Homo sapiens: one gene and its partners. The protein of the gene in region 1 purifies or fractionates together with the protein of each later gene. This does not show direct contact. Each region holds a gene or a part of one and is shown in the gene's direction. Other genes may lie near its edges.

Region 1 (7,027 bases):
TTTTGTCACTTTACATGAGGTAAAATGGGTATGCTTTTGTCACTTTACATGAGGTAGTTGATGTTAGTAATGCGCATTAAGATAGAAATATCTTGTATTTATTGATAAATTGGATTTTTTTTTTATTTTTGTTAGATCCAGTGCTTGCTGGGTTTTTTTAGAGAGACAGGGTCTCACTCTGTCCCCCAGGCTGGAGCACAGTGACGTGATCAAGGCTCACGGCAGCCTTGACCTCCTGAGCTCAAGCAATCCTGTTTCAGCCTCCCGAGTAGCTGGCACTGCAGGCATGCTTCACCATGCCCAGCTAATTTTTAAATTATTTTTTGTACACACATGGTCGCCCTGTTTCCCAGGCTGATCTTGAATTCTTGAGCTCAAGCGATCCGCCTGCCTTGGGCTCCCAAAGTGCTGGGATTACAGGCATGAGCTACTATGCCTGGCCTGGATTAACTGGCTTTTGAGGGGGCCTGAGTTAAGTTCCTACCACATATTTCCGGTCATAGAAACATCACCATACTTCTAAATAAAGACCAAAACATTTAAAATATTAAACATTGAAATAAATGTGAGCTATATATACATTTGAAACAGTAATAAAAGGAATTGACATAATTATTTACCCAGTTATTCCCATCCACGGTTGTAGGTGGCTGGAGTTTAATCCTGATAGCTCAGGGAAAAGGGTAACAGGCAAGAGCCAACCCTAGAAAAGGCGCTGTTTCATCACAGGACAAACTCATACACCTACATTCGTTGGGACTGGGACTGGGATAACTTCAACACACCAGTTCACCTAATGTGCACGTATTTGGATGTCGGAGGTTATGCTCACAGATACCTCCTGAGCTTGGTTTGTAGGTTTTCAGTATTACTCGTACTCTAGCAAAAGAAGCTTTCGGAAGGAGAGAAAATTTAATTTTTTGCTATTTGTTAGACTGATCTCCTAGTGTTTCTCTCTTTAGCCATGTTAATTGTGTCCAATGAATTTTTAATTTTGTTTTTGAGACAGAGTTTCACTCTGTCGCCCAGGCTGAAGTGCAGTGGCATGATCTCAGCTCACTACAACCCCCCGCCTTCCAGGTTCAAATGATTCTCTGTGCCTCACCCTCCTGAGTAGTTGGAACTACAGGCACGTATCACCATGCCCAGCTAATTTTTGTGGTTTTAATAGAGATGGGGTTTCACCATGTTTACCAGGCTGATCTCGAAGTCCTGACCTCAAGTGATCCTCCTGCCTCAGCCTCCCTGAGTGCTGTGATTACAGGCGTGAGCCACCGCGCCCAGCTGAGTATTATTCTTTACACTCTAAACCATACTGTGTTTCACAAAAGTCTCTTAACTGTATACTTTAGATAGTCAGATTCTGAAATGCCGGTATATAATTTACTGCATAAAATGCATGTTTGGCTGTGAGTCAAAAACTGCGGTTGAGGTTCCAGTGCTGGTTAGGGAGTTTGTTCTCTGTATAGATCGAGGTCCATTTAGGGGCTTATGGATAATCAAAACTGCACGTGGTACATCTATGCCGTTTGTTAACCAACAGAACTGTTCCTGCTAAAATGTTTGTATGGTGTTTTTTGGTAGGAGGCAAGGAGAAAACGAAGAGAAAGAAATTTTGAAAAACAAAAGGAGAGGAAGAAGAAGAGGCAGCAGGCTAGGAAGACTGCATCAGTTCTTAGTAAAGATGATGTGGCACCTGAAAGTGGTGATACTACAGTGAAGAAACCTGAATCAAAGAAGGAACAGACCCCAGAGCATGGGAAGAAAAAACGTGGCAGAGGAAAAGCCCAAGTTAAAGCAACAAATGAATCCGAAGACGAAATCCCACAGCTGGTACCAATAGGAAAGAAGACTCCAGCTAATGAAAAAGTAGAGGTATTGTTTTAATATTTACTGTTCATAATGGATTGGTTCAGTGGCTACTGTGTCAGGCAGGTACTGTGCTGAGCAATAAATGATGAAAAATACTAGAGTGAACCCAAAGAACTGTGAAGGTGGTTATCATATCATGATTTATTGTACCTTTTTTTTTTTTTTTTTTTTAGATGGGATCTTGCTATATTGCCCAGACCGGTCTTACACTCCGGGGGTCAAAACAGTCTTCCCACCTTGGCCTCCCAAAGTGCTGGGATTACAAGTGTGAGCCACCACACCTAGTCCCAACCGGTTGGCTTTTTTTTTTTTTTTTGCTTTGCTTTTTTTTGAAGATGGAGTCTCACTCTGTCACCCAGGCTAGAGTGCAGTGGCATGATCTCAGCTCACTGCAACCTCCGCCTCCCTGGTTCAAGCAATTCTCCTTCCTCAGCCTCCCGAGTAGCTGGGATTACAGGCGCGCACTACCATGCCCAGCTAATTTTTGTGTTTTTGGTAGAGACGGGGTTTTGCCATGTTGGCCAGGCTGGTCTTGAACTCCTGGCCTCAGGTGATCCGCCCGCCTTGTCCTCCCAAAGTGCTGGGATTACAGGCATGAACCACCGCACTCAGCCACCAGTTGGCTTTTACACAGAGAATCTGGGAACCCTTGCCCTACACCATGTGCCAGGGATGTGCAGCTACATTTGGAAGACTCAGGATTTGCTCCCATGTGTCTCTGCTGTGCTCCTCATGGTGCTTCCAGGATTCCCTCCCCTCAGTCATAGGGAAAGGTGGTTTTCCTCTGATTGGACCAGGAAGACCTCTGGGTCTTCACAGTTTTTTTTTGTTTTTTTTTTTTGAGACAAGGTCTCACTTTGTTGCCCAGGATGGAGTGCAGTGGCATGATCTCGGCTCACAGCAACCTCCACCTTTCGTGCCCAAGCAATTCTCGTGCCTCAGCCTCCTGAGTAGCTGGGATTACAGGTGTGTGCCAACATGCCTGGCTAATTTTTGTATTTTTAGTAGAGATGGGGTTTTGCCATGTTGGCCAGGCTACTCTTGAACTCCTGGCCTCAAGTAATCCACCTGCCTCAGCCTTCCATAGTGCTGGGATTACAGGCATGAGCCACCTCACCTATACCTCATTCTTAATAGTGGAATACAGCTTATTTCTGTCATCATACTGAGGTGTACCTTTTGGGGGTTAACTAATAAAAACAGTAACTTGGCCATGCGCTGAAAAACAGTAACTTGGCCGGGCACAGTGGCTCACGCCTGTAATCCTAGCACTTTGGGAGGCCGAGGCAGGTGGATCACCTGAGGTCAGGAGTTCGAGACCAGCCTGGCTAACATGGTGAAACCCTGTTTCTACTAAAAATACAAAAAATGAGCCGGGCGTGGTGGCACACACCTATAATACCAGCTACTCGGGAGGCAGAGGTTGCAGTGAACTGAGATTGTGCCATTGCACTCTAGCATGGGCAGCAAGAGCGAAACTCAGTCTGAAAAATAAATAAATACAAATAAAAACAGTAACTCCTGGAGTTAGAGTGTCAGGTTTTGTGGCTTTTTCTATATTAAACTTACTTTTTTTTTTCTTAGATTCAAAAACATGCCACAGGAAAGAAGTCTCCAGCAAAGAGTCCTAATCCCAGCACACCTCGTGGGAAGAAAAGAAAGGCTTTGCCAGCATCTGAGACCCCAAAAGCTGCAGAGTCTGAGACCCCAGGGAAAAGCCCAGAGAAGAAGCCAAAAATCAAAGAAGAGGCAGTGAAGGAAAAAAGTCCTTCGCTGGGGAAAAAAGATGCGAGACAGACTCCAAAAAAGCCAGAGGCCAAGTTTTTCACCACTCCTAGTAAATCTGTGAGAAAAGCTTCCCACACCCCCAAAAAATGGCCCAAAAAACCCAAAGTACCCCAGTCGACCTAAAGTCAGTGATTCAACTGGAAGGAAACCTCAATGCTGCCTCCAGAGCTTTTTGGAAATACTCAGATCCTGGCCGCCTTTGTAACCTTCTCTAAACGTCAGGCCTGGACTTAAAAGATTTTTTAAAACCTCCATAAGTAGTCCAGGGGCGGTGGCTCACGCCTGTAATCCCAGCACTTTGGGAGGCCGAGGCAGGCGGATCACAAGGTCAACGAGATCGAGACCATCCTGGCCAACATGGTGAAACCCTGTCTGTACCAAAAATACAAAAATTAATTGGGCATGGTGGTGGACACCTGTAATCCCAGCTACTAGGGAGGCTGAGGCAGGAGAATTGCTTGAACCTGGGAGGCGGAGGTTGCAGTGAGCCACTGCACTCCAGCCTGATGACAGAGCAAGACTCAGTCTCAAAAATAAATAAAAATAATAAAACCTCCATAAGTAATCCTGACATATGTTCCTGGGTATAATCTGTTTCTAAATTGTCCTTCTGTGTATTTGCTAATGTAATAGAGGGAAAAATAGAGTGCTTCTCTGTGGTTGTTCAGCACTTTAGGTAGCCAAGGTGAGAGGATTGCTTGAGGCCAGGAGTTTGAGACTAGCCTGGGCAACTTGGTAAAACCCCATCTCTACAAAAGAAAAAAAAAAATTAGTGTGGCATGGTGGCATGCATCTGTGCTCCCAGCTCCTCACGAGGCTGAGGTGGAAGGATCAAGTGAGCGCAAGAGGTTGAGGCTCCAGTGAGCCACGATCACCCCACTGTGCTGTAGCCTGGGTGACAGTGTGAGATTCTGTCTCAGAAAAAACAAAGTATAACATTGCTTTGCTTCTGAGTATACTGTTGGCTTTCCAAATCAGTGGGTCTGACTTGAGGTCTGTGATGTGACCCTTTTCCTCACCTGCTCAACCATTATTCACATGGACTCCATCATATTCATTTGTAGTCATTCCCAGAGTGGCCCAGTGAGGGTCTCGCTGTATGAGAGTCGGCTACGGAATTTAGGAGAAACAGAAGTTTCTTGGCTTTCATGCTGAGCTTGTTGGTCTAAGCTTATGAGTCACTGGATTAGCATCCATATGGGAAGGGAAATTAACATGGAGTCATTTATACAGGGACTAAATTGAATCCTACCTACCGGAGGCAAGAACATGATTTATCTTCCATAAGCCTTATCCTCTTCCTCCTTATTCCTCAGTCCATATGGATTTGCTTATGTATGACAACTCCAAGGAATCTTGGAAGAGTAGATTGCTAACGTTTCCACAATTGTCAAGTATATTCTGAGGCAGTAAACACCTTTTTAGGTACGTGGCCTTTCACTGGTTGTGAATTGGTATGCATCCGTAGTAGTAAGTTCACAGATTCACTGCAGTGCAGGAATGTTCTTGCATGCCAAAGACTCAACTGCTTTCAAAGATAATGTGGGTGCTAGATGCAGTGGCTTACATCTGTAACCCTGTTAGGGTGACCAGACCCAACACCAGGTCGTGGGGGTGACAAAGTCCAGTGGAGTCAAAGGATTGAGAAAAAGACAGTTTGAGAGAGAAGTAGGACCAGCAGACCATCGGGATGGTGGAGGCTGTGAAGGCCGTGAGCTCTGGGAGCCCACACTATTTATTGGTAATCCAACAAAGAAACAGATGGTGAGAATGTGAAGGTCAGAAGGGCACCTTGCATTAAGCACATGATTTACAGCTGTGATGGTTTAGCATTTGCTCTGCTACTTGAGATGATGGAGAGCAGGTTCTTTTAACTCAAGTTACAGTCGATCCTGGGAGAGCAAGGAGCCAGCAAGTCTAGACATTCCAGAGCCACAGGCCCTGGATTTTATCCAAGCCACGAGGGATTTTATGCCCTGGGCTTAGATTATGGTGCGTCAGGGCAGCCTTCCACCCTTTAGCACAGAGCTTGGTGTTCCAAAGACCACAAGGGGTTTTAGACCCTTGACCCTGGACATATTCCAAGACTCTTTTACATTATGTCAGAATGCAAGCCCTGCCTCAGCTTCTCCCAACACTCAGCTTTTCGCAACATAATCCCAGCACTTTGGAACGCTGGGTGGATTGCTTGAACCCAGGAGTTCGAGACCATCCTGGGCAATATGGCAAAACCCCATCTTTACCAAAAATAAGCTGGGTGTGGTGGAACATGCCTGTGGTCCCAGCTTCTTGGGAGGCTGAGGTGGGAGGATTGCTTGAACCCGGGAGGTAGAGGCTGCAATGGGCCATGATCACGATCCTGCACTCCAGCCTGGGCAACAGAGAGAGACAGTCCCTGGCCCACTGCCCCCTTCCCTGGCCCAGTCTCAAAAAAAATGAGGCTGGGCGTGGTGGCTCACATCTGTAATCCCAGCCAAGGCTGGCAGATCACTTGAGGCCAGGAGTTCTGAGACCAGCCTGGCTTACATGGTGAAACCCCATCTCTACTAAAAATACAAAAACTAGCCAGGCATGGTGGGAGGCACCTGTAATCCCAGCTACTTGGGAGGCTGAAGCAGGAGAATCACTTTAACCCGGGAGGTGGAGGTTGCAGTGAGCTGAGATCACACCACTGCACTCCAGCCTGGGCGGCAGAGCAAAACTGAAAAAAAGAGAAAAAAAAAAACATCTAGCTCTCCCTGAAATTAGAGGAGTCTAGCCTGCTTTTGCTGTTTTTTTGGTAGCGAGAGTAGCGGGCAGTGGGGGAGATGGTCTTACTCTGTTCCCCAGGCTGGAGTGCACTAGTGTCATCACAGCTCCAGCCTCAATTTCCTGGGCTCAAGGCGATCTTCCCACCTCAGCCTCCCAAGTAGCTCAGACTACAGGGGCATGCCATCACAGCTGGCCAGTTTTTACGTCTTGCGTAGAGATGGGTTTTCCCTGTGTTCCCTAGGCTGGGCTCGAACTCCTGGGCTCAAGTCCTCCTGCCTCAGCCTCCCAAAATGTTCAGATTACAGGCATGAGGCAGCATGCCAATCCTGTTTTTGCATTTTAGTAACACAAATTGTAATGTTAACTTTTTAAATTATGAAAGCATCTAAAATATAAAATTATTTGTAACCCCACTGTCCTTTTGGGCTTCTATAAATGAATATACATCTAAAATGTGGGGGTTTAGCTTAATTGATTGTTTTCCATAGAAACTAGGTTTTATGGGAAGATGGTTGGATAGACTTGTTTCACTTAAAGGTCTGGTTTGTGTAGGACAAACCCACATATGTAATCGTGCCAGTCTGTTCTCTGCATGACATAATTTTCCAGCAATAGC
Region 2 (7,027 bases), on another chromosome or scaffold:
AAGCGAATGCAACAGTGGATGGTCTTGAACAGGTACTTTTTATCAATAACTGAAAACTGTAGGGATCTTACTTGGTGTTTTTATGTAATTGTTGGAAGGATCATTCAGAAAGCAAATGGGTTAATGAACTTTTAAAATGCTGTAGGTGAGGCATGACAGTTTACACACTGTGTTTATCAGTGCTCTTGATGAAATTACACAAGTTAGGAAATGGAAAATGTCCACTTGGTTCATTTGTATCTGTCTGCTTAAACGCTTTCTAGGGATATGTTGTTTGTCCTTCTGAAAAGAGATTCCTTCTGCTCTTTACATTCCTTAAGAAGAACCGAAAGAAGAAGCTTATGGTCTTCTTTTCATCTTGTATGTCTGTGAAATACCACTATGAGTTGCTGAACTACATTGATTTGCCCGTCTTGGCCATTCATGTAAGTGATGATGATGAGCTCATTGAAAACAGGGTATGCTTATTAAATCCTATAGATTGTAGGATTGGAGGTATTGCCCTCTCCTGGAAACATTGTTCTGAGTAGTTTGATCACCACTAGATGATGGATCCTGTGTGGGGGAGCGCTGCTGGGTGTGGAGGGGTATGAGGACTTTCGAAGAGTGCAAGACACCATCCTCCTTGAGGGGCTTGCGGAACAGTTGGGGAAATAGGACATAGGCCAAGGGATGAGCTCGAAATAGGGTAACAGTTCCACAATTTGGGGGTTCTACTGCTAGTCTTCCTCAAGATTCCAGCTCTAATGGATGTTTTTATTTAATTCTAGGGAAAGCAAAAGCAAAATAAGCGTACAACCACATTCTTCCAGTTCTGCAATGCAGATTCGGGAACACTATTGTGTACGGATGTGGCAGCGAGAGGACTAGACATTCCTGAAGTCGACTGGATTGTTCAGTATGACCCTCCGGATGACCCTAAGGTAACTGGCATCTTTGGAATATCTTCAGAATGACTCTGCATTAAAAGTTCACTTATTCTCCCAGTTCCCTGACGGAAACTGCATTCCACATTCAAGGTAAAGATCCCTACTATACAGTGACTGCAGTATTTCTCTGGTATTGAAAAGTACTTAAGGCTTTTCAGGGCTCAAACGGGCTGTGCCAGAGGATTGAAAAGGATCAGTGGGACTTAAGTTATGAAAATGAGATCCTTGGAATGATCTCTTAAGAACAGCAGATGCCTGAAGGAAATAAAATTGCTTAAGGAAGTAGATAAACTTCTGTAGTATATGTGGTAGAATAAGCTTCATTGAGAAGTATTTTCAACAAACACTGGATTAAAGCCGTTTTGATGATGAAGCACACATAATACTCATTTTATTAGATCGCTGTTAATGCAAACATCATGTCCAGCCTTTTTTTTTTTTTTTTTTTTTTTTTTTTGGGCCTCAATCATTGGCCTATTGGGGGTGATGTGCACAGAGCGATTGCTGGCCCAGCTTTGTGGGGGTGTGGTGAAGGTGTGTGTGGCCCAGCACCGTGGGACTACACCATCTCAGTACAGACATGCACATACTCAGGATGCAGATACGCAAATGGGCTCATGTGGAAGTCACTGCGTTAACTCAGATTTTCTTTCTCCACCAAAGGAATATATTCATCGTGTGGGTAGAACAGCCAGAGGCCTAAATGGGAGAGGGCATGCCTTGCTCATTTTGCGCCCAGAAGAATTGGGTTTTCTTCGCTACTTGAAACAATCCAAGGTAAAGATCTGTACTTGGAGAAAGATTTCTCTTGGTGTAGGGATTGTTAGCAAGCAACATTTCTACATGTGTCAGAGGAGTCTCGAGTCTGGCCAGTGCTGTTACAACCATTCTTATGGCAATTAAGCAAGTAAGGTTTTATGTACTTCTAGCCCAAGAAGTGAGCACAGAAGGAACTGCCCACATGGCTCGGCTTTCTAGCTCTGTTACCCAGCAACACCTCTGTGTCCCAGCCTCTCCTTTCCTGTTCCCTCCAGCCCTCTTTGAAACCTTCTCCACTCCTTTGAAGCTCCCTCACACCTAGTCATCTCTGCTTCTGCTCCCCTTCTTTCCTCTTACCTCATGTGAAGCAGTGGGGAATCCTTGTTCGCTCTAGCCTCTGCCTCCTCCCCTGCCCTCTGTCTCCTATTCATCAACTCTTGGCCTACAGTCTCTTCCTTGCGGTTGGCGCTTTACCATCTCAAATTTCTCACTGTAAAAAAGTAACTTCAACCTTAAACCTGTTCTTCTACCCCTGCCTGCAGGAGCTACTGTCTGTTGCCTTTCCTCAGTCAGCCTTACTGGAAAAATGGCTTATATTCTTGCCATTTACCTCCCTCTCAGTCCCTAACCAGCCTAATTTGGCTTTAGCTTTCTACTATCACACCAGAATTGAATCCATCAGGACCCTAAGTGGCCTCTTCATTGCTAGGCCATGTGGGGGATGCATATCAGGCCTTCTCCTGCCTGACATTTACATCCTCATTGGCCTTTCTGGCATAGTCTTGATGATAGGCTTCCTCTACCCTGTAACTGCAGGCAGTTCCCTGAAATTGCTCTACAGCTTTTGCACACTTTGTCCAGAATGCTTGGTTTCAGCTCGCCTCTGTCTTTGCTGGGAAGCCATCGCTGATCTCCTGCCTCCTTGTTCCCACAGCACAGGTGCTCATCAGGTTGACATTTCTTTCTTTCTTTCTTTTTTTATTATTATTACACTTTAAGTTCTAGGGTACATGTGCACCATGTGCAGGTTTGTTACATATGTATTCATGTGCCATGTTGGTGTGCTGCACCCATAAACTCGTCATATACGTTAGGTATATATCCTAATGCTATCCCTTCCCCCTCCCCCCACCCCACGACAGGCCCCGGTGTGTGATATTCACCACCCTGTGTCCAAGTGTTCTCATTGTTCATTTCCCACCTGTGAGTGAGAACATGCGGTGTTTGGTTTTCTGTCCTTGCAATAGTTTGCTCAGAATGATGGTTTCCCGTGTCATCCATGTCCCTACAAAGGACATGAACTCATCCTTTTTTATGGCTGCATAGTATTCCATGGTGTGTATGTGCCACATTTTCTTAATCCAGTCTGTCATTGATGGGCATTTGGGTTGGTTCCAAGTCTTTGTTATTGTGAATAAACATACATGTGCATGTGTCTTTATAGCAGCATGATTTATAATCCTTTGGGTATATACCCAGTAATGGGATGGCCGGGTCAAATGGTATTTCTAGGTCTAGATCCTTGAGGAATCGTCACACTGTCTTCCACAATGGATGAACTAGTTTACAGTCCCACCAACAGTGTAAAAGTGTTCCTGTTTCTCCACATCTCCTCCAGCACCTGTTGTTTCCTGACTTTTTAATGATCGCCATTTTAACTGGTGTGAGATGGTATCTCACTGTGATTTTTATTTGGATTTCTCTGATGGCCAGTGATGATGAGCATATTTTCATGTCTGTTGGCTGCCTAAATGTCTTCTTTTGAGAAGTGTGTGTTCATATCTTTCGCCCACTTTTTGATTGGGTTGTTTGATTTTTTCTTGTAAATTTGTTTAAGTTCTTAGTAGATTCTGGATATTAGTCCTAGCCAAAATTGACAAATGGGATCTAATTAAAGAGCTTCTGCACAGCAAAAGAAACTACCATCAGAGTGAACAGGCAACCTACAGAATGGGAGAAAATTTTTGCAATCTACCTATCTGACAAAGGGCTAATATCCAGAATCTACAGGTTGACATTTCATTACTTATCTTTCTCCCCCTCAAGACGGCAAGCTCTCTGAGGGCAGAGTCCATGAGTTAGGTACCTATTTTCTCTCTAGCACCTGGCACAGGCCTGTTGCTTTTCTAGTTATCTAATGAGTGATAACTGATGGCAGATCCATCCTGTAGGAGTTTGTGGTCATCATGGCCTCCAGTGTCACAAGCCTCAATACAGGACTGTGGGGGTATTAGGGCCCCTCTTCTGACATGGAGAAAAGGGGCTGATGGCCCTTCTGACTAGAAGCTTCAAGCTGATTCATGGTTGCAAATAGTCAGGATTATAGAGATTCTTACAGAAAAGTGCTTTACTGACTGTGTCCCTATCCAGTTCCTTGCCTTTCAGAAAGAAAGAAGTGCAGATTGCCTAACTCAGCAGAGCAAAGATGTAACTTTCCCATCAACATTGGGAGACTAGAAAAAGCAGATTTTCCTTTCTGTCCTGAGGGAATTTCATAGGCCGGTTCATCCTTCCCTGTCTTCAGTACCCAGTATCGGAATGCTGATCATCCTGGTTTACTAATCTTAATACTTTTGATTTCTAGGTTCCATTAAGTGAATTTGACTTTTCCTGGTCTAAAATTTCTGACATTCAGTCTCAGGTATGTGCTTTTTAAACGTTTGTGAGTAAACAGGAACCTTGTCCCAGCACTCTGTTTGTAGTGATTCACTGGGCAATCACTGTCCTTTGAAGTCTACCCTGTCCTAAAGTGAGGATCAGGCTGTGTAGTGTATAAGGTTTCTTGCTATTCTAGTTATCACCACTCTGTGCCCTCTTTAAATGTTTTCCATGGAGTGGCTTTGCTCTAGGATATTTAAAATCTGGTGTTTTGGAGGTTTTTGTTTGTTTTTGTTTATTAAAACCAGTGTTTCTTTCTATTTCAGCTTGAGAAATTGATTGAAAAGAATTACTTTCTTCATAAGTCAGCCCAGGAAGCATATAAGTCATACATACGAGCCTATGATTCCCATTCTCTGAAACAGATCTTTAATGTTAATAACCTAAATTTGCCTCAGGTTGCTCTGTCATTTGGTTTCAAGGTGCCTCCCTTCGTTGATCTGAGTATCCTTTTCTTTAATGAAGTTATCCTGTGACTAAGGAACAAAAGCTTGACAGAGGGGCATTTGGGGCTTTGCAGTGGATTGGTATGTGTTCTGGCTCAGACTGGAGGCTCCAGTGTTCACCCTGGTCGATGTCTGCTTTTCTGTGCTAGCACAGGACATAGAGGTTGGATGGGGTAAGCAGGGCTTAATCATTAGGATGGGGTTACAGGGACAAGGCAGCTTATGCCTTGAGCCTTCAAAAGACAAAGAAATTTGACTGTCAAGGAGAGACAGAGACAGTTGTGTGTTCCAGGCAGAAACACAGGTTAAAAAAATCAAAACTTCAGTGTTTGCTGAGGCTGCACTGTGCAGGGTACTTAGGTGAATGGGGTGTTTTGAAGCTAAAGAGAGGATGGGACCTTTCAAGGAGTTTTAATCATCTTAGAACCCCTGAAGGATTTTATGCAAGAAAGTGGCAAGTTCAGCAAAAGAAAATAAAACTTAGGTGTTGCTTAAGATAAAAGGCAGGAGTACTTCCAGTTGCTTCAGTTGTGATTTATAATTTGTGCCTTTCAGAAGAAGAAACTGAGCAGCTGAAATGAGGCCTGTGCTTCAGTGCCATAGGGGTAACTTCTGAGGGAACTAGAGGACCAAATTTTGGGTCACCATCCCCATTGTCAGCATTGAGTAAATGTCAGCTGAAATGAATGTATGTCGAGTCCTGTGGAAGGAAGAGCAGCTCCTTCACTTAGGCATTCCTAAATCAATTCCGAAGAGAAATGATAGTCATTTGTTTTGACACAGGAGGTGTTTTTTTAATGTGCTCCTACCAACTTCCTGATTAAACTCATAAATCCTTATTCACTGTCATGAATTTCATCGTGTGGAAGAAATAATTAATATGACTATTACACACCGAAGTTTAAAATCATACCTGCTAATTTAAGTCCACAGTCACGTGGCCACTCCTAATTTTCTGGAAATTTATTGCATAGGCTTATGTTCCCACATTTTCATTGTTGAGAATGGGGTTGTGGAGGAACAGTAGTGTTCATGCCGGTTTTTTTCTCTGTGTAGATGTTAGATTGGAGTTCATTATCTTTTTTGCTTGATTTCCTTAATGTTTGCCTCCAGACGTCAACAGTAATGAAGGCAAGCAGAAAAAGCGAGGAGGTGGTGGTGGATTTGGCTACCAGAAAACCAAGAAAGTTGAGAAATCCAAAATCTTTAAACACATTAGCAAGAAATCATCTGACAGCAGGCAGTTCTCTCACTGAACACATGCCTTCCTTTCATCTTGAATAACTTTGTCCTAAAATGAATTTTTTTTCCCCTTGATTTAACAGGATTTTTGTAGACTTTAGAATTTGGACTTACCTAACAAGAGTATAAATTGACTTGGGTTGCAAGCACTGAGCACTGTTACTTCTATCACGTCTCTCTTTTATTTCTGGGATATAAAACAGGCTTTAAGTTTCTTGGTTGCCCAAGGGCAGAGCAAGGAATATCTGGTGTTTCTTGTGATGATAATATTTTAATTTTAAATATCCCTCCCTCATACAAGTGTATGTTACCATTTTAATATAATTCTTTTTGTACCTTTCCTTCTTGTTTTGCGAAGATTTTTGTGGCATGGATTGCTGTGCTCACTGCTGTAAAAGGTGACCTAGTGTACTGGGCAGCTGGTGGCGGTGCAGAAAAGAGTCTCAGGTTATTTTTTGTTTTTAGTTATTTCTTGGACCTTGACAGTATCTAATGACTCCTCCTGAAAATGCTGCAGTATAAAAGAGCAAAGAGCTTTGGGAAATACCTAAGAAGCACCTTAAGATTAGGGTGGCATTGCTTTTATAGATTCTTGATTTTAAAGCAACAGGCCTTTCTCAGGTGTTGCATTTTTTGGAGCAAAAACTATGGGTTGTAATTTGAATAAAGTGTCACTAAGCAGTTATAACGTTTGATGGCTGGGGGGTAGGAAGAGGATGGAATTGAGATGTTTGAGCCTCATTTACATCAATAGAGGTGTAATGTACTGCATTTCTTCATTTGGTAACATAACAAAGACTTTCATACAAAGAACGATGATGCTCCTCATTAAGATTTGTTTAATTCAAGGTGGTTTGGATTTGGTAAGCCTTTGCACTCTGTAGAGTACTTAGAAGACAAGGGCAACTTACTTGGAGTTAGAGCCAAGCTGTCAGACGGTGCCCAGCACACATTAATGTTAGCTTCTTTCTGAGAAAAAAATACCTCTTCCAG
Region 3 (7,027 bases), on another chromosome or scaffold:
CTTTTTGATAGGCAGCTGCCACATTGCTCTTGAGAAAGGGTTTAATTTCATTTCCCTTGGGCAGTGCTAGAAAGCTCTCATTCTCGTCCATCTCATGTCTCTTAAATGAAGTGGAGGTTTTGCTGTCTTAGTGAAGAGGCATTGTCCTTTGACTGCATCAGTGTTATTACCTCATTGCTATTGTCAGCCCATCTTCAAGCATTGGGCCACCTAGAGATAAAATGTCAAGCCATTTGAGGCCAAGCAAAAAGAGGCAGTGAGTTCATTTATTTGTTCTTAGAATTATTTGAACTTTCGTTGGCTTTGTATTCTGCCGATTTGAATTTTTCCTTCCGCAACAGGTATAGTAGGTAATGCAGTAAAGACAAAACTATTTTTGTTTACCTTGGGTAAATGTCCTAGAGACTAGTAAATAAACAGATTCTAAACCTTATCAGAAAAATACTGCTGTATATGGGAGCTATGGAGTATAGGTTGTGATTCAGGTCCTGCCAATTCCATTTTGTAATTCTCTGTGACATACTGCCTAATTCAGTCATGCTTTTTTTTAGTTTAATGTTTTATTGTGGTAAAATATATGTAACAAAAAATGTGGCCAGACGCAGTGGCTCACACCTGTAATGCTAGCACTTTGGGAGGCTGAGGCGGGCGGATCACCTGAGGTCAGTAGTTTGAGACCAGCCTGACCAACATGGTGAAACCCAGTCCCTACTAAAAATACACAAATTAGCTGGACGCAGGGGCGCACACCTGTAGTACCAGCTACTTGGGAGGCTGAGGCTGGGGAATCGCTTAAACCCGGGAGGCGGAGGTTGCAGTGAGCCAAGATCGCACCACTCATTCCAGCCTGGGCGACAGAGCGAGACTCCGTCTCAAAAAAAAAAAAAAAAAAGTACTCTTCTAACCATTTGATGTGATCTCGGCTCACTGCAATCTCTGCCTCCCGGGTTCAAGCGATTCTCCAGCCTCAGCCTCCCGAGTGGCTGGGATTACAGGTGCCCGCCACCACGTCTGGCTAATTTTTTTGTATTTTTAGTAGAGACAGGGTTTCACCATGTTGGTCAGGCTGGTCTCGAACTCCTGGCCTTATGATCCACTGCCTCAGCCTCCCAAAGTGCTGGGATTACAAGTGTGAGCCACTGTGCCCAGCTCTTCTAACCATTTTCAAGTGTACAGTTTAGTGATACTAAGTTCATTTACATTGTTGTGCAATCATTGCAGCTATCCATCTCCAGAACTTTTTCATCATCCCAAACTGAAACCCTGTACCCATTTAACACTAACGGTCCGTTTCCCCTCTCCCCCAGCCCCTGGTAACAACATTCTACTTTCTCTCTCATGAATTTGACTGGTTTAGGTGCCTAATATAAGTGGAATCATACAGTATTTGTCCTTTTGTGTCTGGCTTATTTCACTTAGCATAATGTCTTCAAGGTTCATTCGTGTTGTAGCAGGTGTCAGAATTTTCTTCTTCTTTTTTTTTTTTTTTTAATTAATTATTTTTTGAGACAGGGTCTTGCTCTGTCACCCAGGCTGGAGCAGTAGCCTGCTCATGGCTCACTGCAGCCTCAACCTCCTGGGCTCAAGGAGTTCTCCCACCCCAGTCTCCCCAGTAGCTGGGATTACAGGCATGCACCACTATGCCCAGCTAATTTTTGTATTTTTTGTGGAGATGGGGTTTTGCCATGTTGCCCAGGCTGGTCTCGAACTCCTGGGCTCAAGCAGTCTGCCCTCCTTGGCCTCCCAAAGTGCTGGAATTACAGGTGTGAGCCACTGAGCCAGCTGGAATTTCCTTCTTTTTTAAAGTTGAATGCTATCTTGTGTATATATGTGCCACATTGTGTTTATCCATTTATTTGTTGACAGACATTTGGGCACACTTTTTAAATTCAGTTTGTTTCTGGTCCATCTCCAACTGGGTTTGATACTGTTTTTTTTGGTACATTGACTTTACCCTAAAGCATCCTTTTAGTCTTGATGGTGCTTCAGTTGCTCATTTGGGGTGCTTTCTTATTTAGAAATGAAGCTCAAGAAGAGATCTATAAAAAGGGACAGTCCAAAAGAATATGGGGTGAGCTCTACAAGGTAAGACTCCTAAATTCTCTCCCATTGAGTGGTTCCTTGGGCTTTCATGATTTTGTAGAAGAAAACTAATTTTGATATATTGAAGCTCTGTTGCGCAGAGTACAGGCACCACTGCCTGTTCCATCCTCTTCCTCCTACAAAGAAACTCGGAAGGCGTACTACCATTGATCTAGGTAACTGCATTTTTTAAAGTACTTGTATAAGAGTAACAGCTATCTTTTATTATACAATCACATATTTATTACCTGTCAGTATTTTTTAAGATTTCCTGCCAAATTTATCATGCCTAGTTAAAGTCACATGCAACATTTTAAGTTATTTAGTCCACCCCTCTCCTTTTATCGATGAGGACTCCTGTCTAGAAAGGTTTAATGCTGTACCTAGCTCGACTAGCTTGTTAGTGAAGGAGGCTTTGTATATCTTGATTTCTGATCCAGTGATCTTTAACCGGCAGAGGTTTATGTCCATGCACTAATAATAACCTTCAGAAGAAAAATTTTCAAGTATAATCACGTAATTAAATAGTAACATGATAGGAAACTAGTACCGTGAAGGCAAGCTAAACTTTGTAGTTTTTTGTGAAATACACAAAACCTATAATATTACAAACTTAAAGATAATATTACAAACTTAAAGAAGTCTAAGAAGTAAATGATTTAGTTCAATAATCCATAGTAGTTAGGAAATAAGTTGAGTTTCATCTAAGCTAGTTTTTCTGTTTTAAATTCAGCAGGTTTCAAAAGCCACAGGATGAAAAACCTTTTGAATTCTGATCACTGGGCCTTGAGATTAGCCACAACGAACTCTGCCCAGAGACTGTTTTGAAGTTGTCTCTAAATATTATTATTTTATTTTTCCCAGACTCCCTTAAATGTCATCCCTCTTTTATTTGTACTGTAGCAAACCATTTTTGCCTTTCTGAATTTTCAGGTGATAGATTCATCAGATGTTGTAGTTCAAGTTCTTGATGCTAGAGATCCAATGGGTACTCGTTCCCCTCACATTGAAACTTACCTGAAGAAGGAAAAACCTTGGAAACACCTCATTTTTGTACTTAACAAATGTGACCTTGTTCCAACCTGGGCAACAGTAAGTACAACTACTAAACCAGAATAGACTATTAAGACATCTGTTAGTAAGTCAGTTGTAGGGCTTTTAGGCTAAAGTGTTGTCCGGCTGAGATTGTAGTAATGGGAGTGCTCTCATTGGAAACACGAAAGTGTGCTCATTGATAGTGGGCAGAGGCACCAGGAGACGGCTTCTGAGGCCACTGCCTGCTTCACATTATGCTCCATTAATTGCATTTAGTAACAATGAAGACATTTTTTGGAATATTGTTTTGTATTTATAAGACAGAAGAACAAAGCATTAACTGTTATACTTGGAAAAAACATTTCAAAGAATTATAGCTAACATTTTCCTTAGACAACAGTATATTTGAAACAGTTCTGTAATTCAAGCTCTGATTCTTCCACATAATGTAAATAAATGTACTGCAGTTTACCAAAATGTTTTCATCTCTCCTTCTAGAAACGGTGGGTTGCTGTCCTCTCCCAGGATTATCCAACACTTGCTTTCCATGCAAGCCTTACTAACCCGTTTGGCAAGGGAGCATTCATTCAGCTTCTGCGGCAGTTTGGAAAGGTATTGAGCCCTGATCTGTTTCTCCTGGAGTTGTGTAGCTGTGAGTTGGTATAAGAATCTGTCTTGCCATGGCATAGCAGAAAGTTGCCAACTTCTTAGCCGGACGTGGTTGCGCAGGTCTGTAGTCCTAGCTACTCAGGACGCTGAGGCAGGAGGATTGCTGGAGCCCAGGAGATCAAGGCTACAGTGAGCTATGATGGCACCACTGCACTCCAGCCTGGGTAACAGAGCAAAACCCTGCCTCTAAAAAAAAAAGATGTGGCCGGGCGCGGTGGCTCACACCTGTAATCCCAGCACTTTGGGAGGCCGAGGCAGGCAGATCACAAGGTCAGGAGTTTGAGACCAGCCTGGCCAATATGGTGAAACCCCGTCTCTACTAAAAATACAAAAATTGGCCAGGCATGGTGGCACACGCCTGTAGTCCCAGCTACTGGGGAGACTGAGGCAGGAGAATCGCTTGAACCTGGGAGGCGGAGTTTGCCGTGAGCCGAGATTGCGCCACTGCACCCCAGCCTGGGCGACAGAGCGAGACTTCTCAAAAAAAGAAGAAGAAGATGTAAAAACTTCCAGAGATGTAAAAACTCACAGAGCATCAGGATTATAAGAGATTCTGAAGTGTTTTCTTGCTCAGCCTTTGCCCCCATCCGTGACCAGTGTTGCTTCCATTTCTGCCACAGCCCTGGCACCTGACGTTCCACGCTCTGCTGGGCTTTCCAGGCCTGCTGTGCATCCTCTGCCCATGGAGCCCATGCAGCTTCTATGTCCTCTGGTTGGAGAGGGCCCTGCCAAAATTCAAGCTTCAGATCCCTGGTCAGACGTCAGCTCCTGAGGGAAGCCGTGGAACCAGACTACCCTATCAAATTCTTAAAGCTTCATGTTCTGTACCTGTCATTTTGAATTTGTCTATTTAGTTAATTCTACCTGGCTTCTAACAAAAGACACATGTCTGCTGTCCCACCCTTCCCCACTTTACAGAAGCAAATGCTTCCAATAGCCATTAGTTCTGTTATTTTCCTCCATATTTTTAGTACATGCTTATGATTTTCTTGATCTGTGCCCACCCCTCACCCCCAGTTTAAGATGCTTATTAATTTCTTACTATGGAAAATGAGGATTTGCTATCTTATAGCCATCCTCTCTCTGTATGTACTTCCCCCTGTATTGTTAGATGCCAATGTTGGGTTACAGTATTATTCATTCAGTGTTGGTTGGTTGTTGTTGTTGTTTTAACTTGGAAAGGAGAGCTTTATTTCTCATAAAGGGTTGCAGCCTGCAGGGTGGCCACTCTAACAGGCTGGGAAGAGTAGTCTTGGCCATTCAGTCTTTACATTGTCATGACTGTAAAATATTAGTCACAGCTGATCCACATGGTGTGCTATGAGTATAATTCCTTTCTGATCGAAGCTTTTATTTTCGCTAGTGTTACTTTGCTGTGTTCTATTTGTATCTGTCACTATCATACTACCAAATTCTCTGATACAGTGGGAACTGTCAGAGCTTCCAGGCAGCACAGGTAGTTCCCTTCGGTGGCCAGCACTCCGTCCTCCGCAGGGCTGGCCGCTCTCCAGGCTGCTGCAGCGTCGTCTTTCTGGGATTTCCTTTCACTGTCATCCAGAGAATTCCCATGGCTGTTTTCCTGTATGGGACCTCTTATTTATAGGACCTCTTTTCTTCTTTTCTGGTTTACTCCTTTCTTTCCATGGGACATATTTTCCAAAAGTTTCCTGAGAAGGAATACTTGGAAAGAACATTTTTTTGAGATACGCCTTGCGTTCTGAAAATATCTTTATTAAGATCTTTATTCTACCCTTTATGCTGTTTTTCCTCAGAATACTGAGGTTACCACTGCACTGTCTTCTGAATTCTGAGGAATCTGAGGCCATTCTGACCCCTCATACTTTGTGTGGCTGTGATTTCTTGTTTTGAGACAGGGTCTTGCTTTGTCACCCAGGCTGGAGTGTGGTGGCACAACCACAGCTCACTGTAACCTCAAACTCCTAGGCCCAAGCGATCCTCCTGCCTCGTTTTGGCCTCCTGAAGTGCTGGGATTACAGGTGTGTGCCACCACGCCCAGCCAATCTTTTCTTATTCTAAAATTTAAAATTTCTCTTGTTCTAAAATTTCACAGTGGTGTGTCTTGAAGTGGGCCTTTTATTGCTCAGTGAGCTTGGCGTTTGATGAGACTTTAGTCTGATATTGTCTTACATTATTTCTTTGAAATTTTCTTTCCTCCCTCAGTTGTCTGTATTCTTGTTCAGAAATTTGCTTTTACCTCCTGGTTTAATTCTTGATTTATATTTGCTTTCTTTTTTTTTTTTTTTTTTTTTGAGGCAGAGTCTCACTCTTGTCACCAGGCTGGAGTGCAGTGGTGTGATCTCGGCTCACTGCAGCCTCCGCCTCCCGGGTTTAAGCGATTCTCCTGCCTCAGCCTCCCGAGTAGCTGGGACTGCAGGCACACGCCACAACGCGCAGCTAATTTTTGTATTTTTAGTAGAGACGGGTTTTCACCATGTTAGCCAGGATGGTCTTGATCTCTTGACCTCGTGATCCGCCCGCCTCAGCCTCCCAAAGTGTTGGGATTACAGGCATGAGCCACTGCACCTGGCCTATATATTTTTTCTTTTGGTACATATATGACATTTTCCTCTATTTTCTGGGTACTTTTTTTTTTTTGTGAGACAGAGTTTTGCTCTTGTTGCCCAGGCTAGAGTGCAATGGCGCGATCTCGGCTCACTGCAACCTCCTCCTCCCAGGTTCAAGCAATTCTCCTGCCTCAGCCTCCCGAGTAGCTGGGATTACAGGCATGTGCCACCACACTTGGCTAATTTTGTATCTTTAGTAGAGACGGGGCTTCTCCGTGTTGGTCAGGCTGGTCTCAAACTTCCGACCTCAGGTGATCCGCCCCCCTCGGCCTCCCAGAGTGCTGGGATTACAGACGTGAGCCACTGCTCCCGGCCACTTTCCTTGTTTTGATCATCCAGCTGCCCAGTCACAAAATTTATTTTGCCAATTGCTTTTAATTTTTAATTTCTGAGAGCTCTTGTTGAATTCTGATTTGCTCTGCCTCCTTTTACATCTTATTTCACAGTCACAGTATCATTAATGACGTTTTGAAATTTTCCTGTCTGCATTGATTCTGTTACCTCCAAATTTTTGTGGGTTTTTTTGTGTTTTCTGCTACAGTCACGCTTAAAAATTTTTTCTTTTACTTTAAAAATTTTTTTGAGACAGGGTCTTGTTCTGTCTTAACCCAGGCTGAAGTGCAGTGGTGCGATCATGGCTCACTGCAGCCTCGACC

The links.
Region 2: the proteins of RSL1D1 (region 1) and DDX18 purify together in Homo sapiens (affinity purification with mass spectrometry; 2 studies listed by BioGRID and IntAct, with this or other methods). This does not show direct contact.
Region 3: the proteins of RSL1D1 (region 1) and GNL2 purify together in Homo sapiens (affinity purification with mass spectrometry; 2 studies listed by BioGRID and IntAct, with this or other methods). This does not show direct contact.

The regions. Positions count from the first base shown.
Region 1 is NC_000016.10:11,834,543-11,841,569, reverse strand, and holds part of RSL1D1 (ribosomal L1 domain-containing protein 1), read left to right. Parts: intron 1-1,584; coding exon 1,585-1,875; intron 1,876-3,456; coding exon 3,457-3,783; 3' UTR 3,784-7,027. UniProt on the Homo sapiens protein: Regulates cellular senescence through inhibition of PTEN translation. Acts as a pro-apoptotic regulator in response to DNA damage.
Region 2 is NC_000002.12:117,824,677-117,831,703, forward strand, and holds part of DDX18 (ATP-dependent RNA helicase DDX18), read left to right. Parts: coding exon 1-32; intron 33-263; coding exon 264-425; intron 426-770; coding exon 771-923; intron 924-1,592; coding exon 1,593-1,706; intron 1,707-4,272; coding exon 4,273-4,329; intron 4,330-4,612; coding exon 4,613-4,790; intron 4,791-5,905; coding exon 5,906-6,048; 3' UTR 6,049-7,027. UniProt on the Homo sapiens protein: ATP-dependent RNA helicase that plays a role in the regulation of R-loop homeostasis in both endogenous R-loop-prone regions and at sites of DNA damage.
Region 3 is NC_000001.11:37,578,925-37,585,951, reverse strand, and holds part of GNL2 (nucleolar GTP-binding protein 2), read left to right. Parts: intron 1-2,018; coding exon 2,019-2,085; intron 2,086-3,015; coding exon 3,016-3,174; intron 3,175-3,615; coding exon 3,616-3,729; intron 3,730-4,406; coding exon of another isoform or gene 4,407-4,610; intron 4,611-7,027. UniProt on the Homo sapiens protein: GTPase that associates with pre-60S ribosomal subunits in the nucleolus and is required for their nuclear export and maturation.